Regions from separate parts of the Homo sapiens genome. Here region 2 is linked to region 1. The links come from fine-mapping of genetic effects on gene expression. A gene starts in region 1. The other region holds a variant in brackets. All regions are shown on one strand. Distances are between the middles of the regions.

Region 1 (2,813 bases):
AGGGTCTTAGAGTGGAGAGGACCTGTTGGAACGACATCTCCACAGAGCGGGAAATAGGGAGAGTAGTTTATAGTAGCTACTAGACTGGAGAACTACCAGGAAACACAGATCGTCGTGCAGACGGCCAGGCAGTGAGTAGAAATGGGCACAAAAGAAAAAGTCTTTGGTTTCAACGAAAGCACATGAGTAATGGGAAAGGCAAGACTAACCTGGATTAGTAGAGTCAAATCCTGTTTTAGACTAGAAGTACCAGGGTATAAGTCGGGAGGCTGCAACTTATTTCGTATGCTTATGCAGTTTCTTGGAACCATGGCTCTCAAACTTGCGAATTTGCATTTTTAACAATTTCCCAGATGACGATAAAGCTAGTCTGGGAAGAACACTTCATAATCACTATTATAAAGAAAACCTGAATTGTTTTTCACCACCCAGTAATAAACCTACAGCTTATGGTGTGTCTAACTTTTTACACTCAAATCAGATTTGGAGCCAGGCGCAATGGCTCACGCTTGTAATCCCAGCACTTTGGGAGGCCAAGATGGGAAGATCCTTTGAGCCCAGGAGTCAGAGACAAGCCTGGACAACACAGGGAGACCCCTTCTCTACAAATAAAATTTACAAATTAGCCGGGCCTGGTGGCGCGCACCTGTGGTCCCATCTACTCAGGTGGCTGAGGCAGGAGAATCGCTGGAACCCGGAAGGCGGAGGTTGCCGTGAGCGGAGATAGCACCACCGCACTCCAGCCTGGGTGACACAGCAAGACTCCGTCTCAAAAAAAAAAAAAAAATCCATTTTGGAGGTTGTTTTGTGTCCGTTTTTGTTGTTGTTGTTAACTGTGTTAATTCACAGATTTGAAGTTTTAGAAAATTAACTACAACTAAATCCGAGCTATTCTGCTGACAGCATTTATTCAAATTATGCTTAAAGTTTTCAGAGATAACCAAAGCCAACAGAATTCAACGTGCGCTCAGGTCTCGCTTTGCCCTCGCTGTGCCTTCTCCGTAGGCCGCTCTCTGGGCCAAGCACCTCCCCGGAACGCGCGCAACCGCGGCGGACAGGCAGCCGCCGGCGCGGGAGCTGAGGTAGGAGCCCGGGGCACCCACAGGCCGCAGCGGACGCACGCAGCTAGCACGGTCCCCGCCCCGGGTCGCGCCTGCGGCCTCCCCAGCGTCTGCGCCGCGAGTCCGCTGGACCCGCCAGGGCGTAACGGCGGGTAACCCGCCCCACCCGCCGCACAACACACCCAACTGCACGGACTCACGTCCGGGATCCCCTGCCTGCCTCTCGAGGAAGACACCTGCCCAGGCCGGCCGCAGAAGAGGTCGCACAGCTTGCCGCCGCCCAGGGTTTCAGCGTGCTTCCTGGGCCTCGTCATCGAATTGTTCGGCTGACGGCTGCGTGTCCCTCCCCCGTTGCGGGCCGCTGATTGGCCTCGTTGATTGGGCGGGGCTAGTAGCGGGACCGGCCTCTGCGCGCGGGTTATTTTCGCCGCGGATTTTCTTTTACTTTTCATCTGCGGAACTCTTTCTGCGAAGGAAATCTCGCCTGGAACTCAAATATATACAACGGATAGGAAACCTATTTTCTTACTATTAATATATTTGATAAGTTTGAATGTGTAACATTCGCCATGAAACGCAAGCATGATTTTTTTTTTTTTGAGGCAGAGTCTCACAGTGTTGCCCAGGCTGGAGTGCAGTGGCGCGATCTCGGCTCGGCTCACTGCAACCTCTGCCTCCCGGGTTCAAGCAATTCTCCTCTCTCAGCCTCCCGAGCAGCTGGGACTACAAGCGCGCACCACCACATCCAGCTAATGTGTATTTTTAGCAGAGACAGGGTTTCACCATGTTGGCTAGGCTGGTCTCGAACTCCTGACCTCAGGTGATCCGCCCGCCTCGGCCTCCCAAAATGCTGGGATTACAGGTGTAAGCCACCGCGCCTAGCCACAAGCATAATTTTTTAAAGGGAGGATCACGAATGACAACTGTAGTTCTACTCAGGGCAGGACAAGGGAAAGGTCTGCACACTGTAGGGCAGTTGGAAGTAGTTTTGTTTTTGTCTTTAACTGCTGGCCTTGCAATCTCGGGAAACTGTGAAGATGGTAAAATTTACTATCTTAACCATTTTTAAAGGTACAATTCAGTGGTATTAGATACATTCACATTGTTATGCAACCATTACCACCATCCATCTCCAGCACTCATCTTGCAAAACTGAAACTCTGTACCCAGTAAGTGGTAACGCCTCATTCTTCCCCTCCCTCCTTCCCAGCGACTACCATTCTTTCTGTCTTTATGAATTTGACTACTCTAGGTATTTCATATAAGGACTCATACAGCATTTGTCTTTTTGTAACTGATTTCACTTACCATAATGTCCTCAAGGTTCATCCATGTGGTAACGTGTCAGAATTTCTTTTAAGGCTGAATAGTATTCCATTTTATGTATATACCAGTTCATTCAGTCATCTGTTAATGGATAACAGGTTGTTTCCACTTTTGGCTACTGTGAAATAATACTGTAAACATGGATATACAAATATCTGTTTTTTAACCCTTTTGGGTATACACACAGATGTTCAAATATCTGTTGCTTTCAACTCCTGAATATATATACACAAGTGGAATTGCTGGATTATGTAGTAATTCTATTTTTAATTTTTTGAGGATCTGCCGTACTTTTTTTTTTTTTGAGATGGAGTTTCACTCTTGTTGCCCAGGCTGGAGTGCAGTGGTACGATCTCGGCTCACCACAACCTCTGCCTCCCGGGTTCAAGCGATTCTCCTGCCTCAGCCTCTTGAGTAGCTGTGACT
Region 2 (2,813 bases), 55 kb after region 1:
ACCTGTTTTTAAAAATTCACAATTTATCAACAGATTGCTAATAGCAAAAGAAAGGGTCAGTGAACATTAAATCAACTTAAAATAATCCAAATGAACACAAGGGAAGCCTGGGCAACATGGTGAAACCCTAACTCTAAAAAAAATACAAAATTAGCTAGGCTGATGGTACACGCCTGTATAGTCCCAGCTACTTGAGAGGCTGAAGTGGGAGGATTGCTTGAGCCCAGGAGACCAAGGCTGCAGTGAGCTGTGATCATGCCACCACACTCCAGCTTGGGTGACAGAGAGAGATCAATTTGTTTACTCTCTGTTCAAGGCCAGTGGAGAAAGAAAAATGAAAATGAAAATTTTTGTTCATTGTTTTGCTAAGCTTCTACCAATGATGAGACACTAAAAACTTTAGATAAAATCTTACCTTTTTTTGTCAAATTTTTCCATACATTCTAGAGGCTGAATGAACTGAAGAACTTCATCCCATTGACCATCAAGTATTAGCTGCCTAAATAAAAAATTTAAAAAAACCAGCATGTCACCAAATTCAGGTTATACTAATTAAAAGCAGAACAGATGACAAAACAGCATTCAAACTTCATAAAGCACACAATGAGATTAACATTTTATTTGATTCCTCAAATAAATTTTTCATAATTTTTTTTTTTTTTGAGACAGAGTGTCGCTCTGTTGCCCAGGCTGGAGTGCAATGGCACAATCTCGGCTCACTGCACCCTCTGACTCCTGTGTTCAAGCGATTCTCCTGCCTCAGACACCCGAGAAGCTGGGACTATAGGCTCGCACCACTAAGCCCCACTAATTCTTTTCTATTTTTAGTAGATACAGGGTTTCACCATGTTGGCCAGGCTGGTCTCAAGCTCCTGACCTCAGGTGATCCACCCACCTCAGCCTCTCAAAGTGCTGGGATTACAAGCGTGAGTCACCTCACCTGGCCTAAATTTTTCATAACTTATTTGTAACAACATACACTGTATGAGAAGAATTTGTGAATCTGCAACCACTCATACTAACTATATATATGTGGGTTTTGACCTATGTAAAAACATTGGACATGCCAGGCGTGGTGGCTCACACCTGTAATCCCAGCACTTTGGGAGGCCAAGGTGGGCAGATCACCTGAGGTCAGGAGTTTGAGACCACCCTGCCCAACATGGCGAAACCCCGTCTCTACTAAAAGTACGAAAATTAGCTGGCCGTGGTGGCGGGCGCCCGTAATCCCAGCTACTGGCAGGAGAAGCTTGAACCTGGGCGGCAGAGGTTGCAGTGAGCCAAGATCACGCCACTGCACTCTAGCCTGGGCAACAAAAGAGAGACTCTGTCT[C/CA]AAAAAAAAAAAAAAAATGGACTAAGCTTTAAAGTTCCTATATTTCCATATTCATCTTACAGTTTTAAAGCTATTATATATTATTTTAAGAACAAGTGGCTGGGCGCAGTGGCTCATGTCTGTGGTCCCAGCACTTTAGGAAGCTAAGGTAAGCAATTCACTCGAGCTCAGGAGTTCGAAACCAGCCTGGGAAACATGGCGAAACCCTGGCTCTACAAAAAATACAAAAATTAGCCAGGCATGGTTGTGCATGCCTGTGGTCCCAGCTACTCGGGAGGCTGAGGTGGGAGGATCACTTGAGCCCAGATGTCAAGGCTGCAGTGAGCTGAGATTGTGCCACTGCACTCCAGCCTGGGCAACAGAGTGAGACCCTGTCTCAAAAAAACACACACAAAAAAGAAAGAACAGGTGATCATTTGAGCCCAGCAGTTCAAGACTAGCCTGGGCAACATGCAAAACCCCATCTCTACAAAAAATTTAAAAATTAGCTGGGCATGGTGGTACATGCCTGTAGTCCCAGCTATTCAGAAGGCTGAGGTGGGATAATCGCTTGAGTCAAGAAGGTCATGGCTGCAGTGACCATGATCATGCCACTCCACTCCAGCCTGGCAGCCTAGGTGACATAGCAAGACCCTGTTTCAAAAAAAAAGTAAAAAGAATTTTAAAAGCTGGGAGTGGGCCAGGCATGGTGGCTGTCAGCATTTTTGGAGGCCGAGGCAGACAGATCACCTGAGGTCAGGAGTTCAAGACCAGGCTGGCCAACATGGCGAAACACCATCTCTACTAAAAATACAAAAATTAGCCAGGCGTGGTGGCAGGTGCCTGTAATCCCAGCTTACTCGGGAAGCTGAGGCAGGGAGAATTGCTTGAACCTACAAGGCACGTTACAGTGAGCCGAAGTCACGCCACTGCAGTCCAGCCTGGGCGACAGAGTGAGACTCTGTCTCAAAAAAAAAAAAAAAAAAAGCTGGGAGTGGTGGCTCACACCTGTAATCCCAACATGTTAGGAGGCTGAGGCACCATGGTGAAAATCCATCTCAACTGGGGGTGATTTTGCATTCTGTCAGGACATTTGGCAACATCTAAAGACATTTTTGGTAGTCACAACTGGGGATACTACTGGGATCTAGTGGGTAGATCTACTGGGATCTAGTTGGGGATGCCGTTAACATCCTACAACAAAGGACAACCCTCCACAACAAAGAATTATCTGGCCCAGATGCTAGCAGTGCCAAGGCTGAGAAACTCTGCTCTACATTGTGAATTCTATGTGAAATCTACAGCTTTGAGAATACAGTTTACACTGAGAATGAAAACAGCAAGGAATAAGAACAAGTTTCATCCTACTTTAAATGGTCTATGGGAATATCCAAAAGTTACAAGGCATTCTTACATCTTTTCTTACACAACGGCAATTTCCCTATTTTTGAATGTTTTAGAACAGAGAAATTTTAAATGGGAAGGATGGGCAGGAAGACCT

Which allele goes with the higher level. Alleles are on the strand shown, and positions count from the first base shown. SD is a standard deviation of normalised expression in the study named.
In carriers of allele CA in region 2, the expression in iPS cells of the gene that starts at base 1,385 in region 1 tends to be lower than with C alone (large effect, 1.0 SD a copy in HipSci).

Evidence for each region. PIP is the estimated chance that this variant, and not a neighbour inherited with it, causes the effect.
Region 2: its variant is the best candidate, but not a certain one, in a credible set for the expression of CLCC1 in iPS cells (HipSci, PIP 0.72).

Annotation. Positions count from the first base shown.
Region 1 is chr1:108,962,100-108,964,912 of GRCh38, forward strand. It overlaps CLCC1 (chloride channel CLIC like 1), which reads right to left and starts at 1,385. Exons shown (of 13, transcript NM_001377458.1): 1 at 1,262-1,385; 2 at 210-370. RefSeq lists enhancers at 1-88, 461-580 and silencers at 508-802, 941-1,180.
Region 2 is chr1:109,017,103-109,019,915 of GRCh38, forward strand. It overlaps WDR47 (WD repeat domain 47), which reads right to left. Exons shown (of 15, transcript NM_001142551.2): 3 at 416-499. Among named protein-coding and RNA genes, the nearest start is that of WDR47, 24 kb to the right of the region's middle. The variant C/CA (reference allele first, on the strand shown) is at 1,334.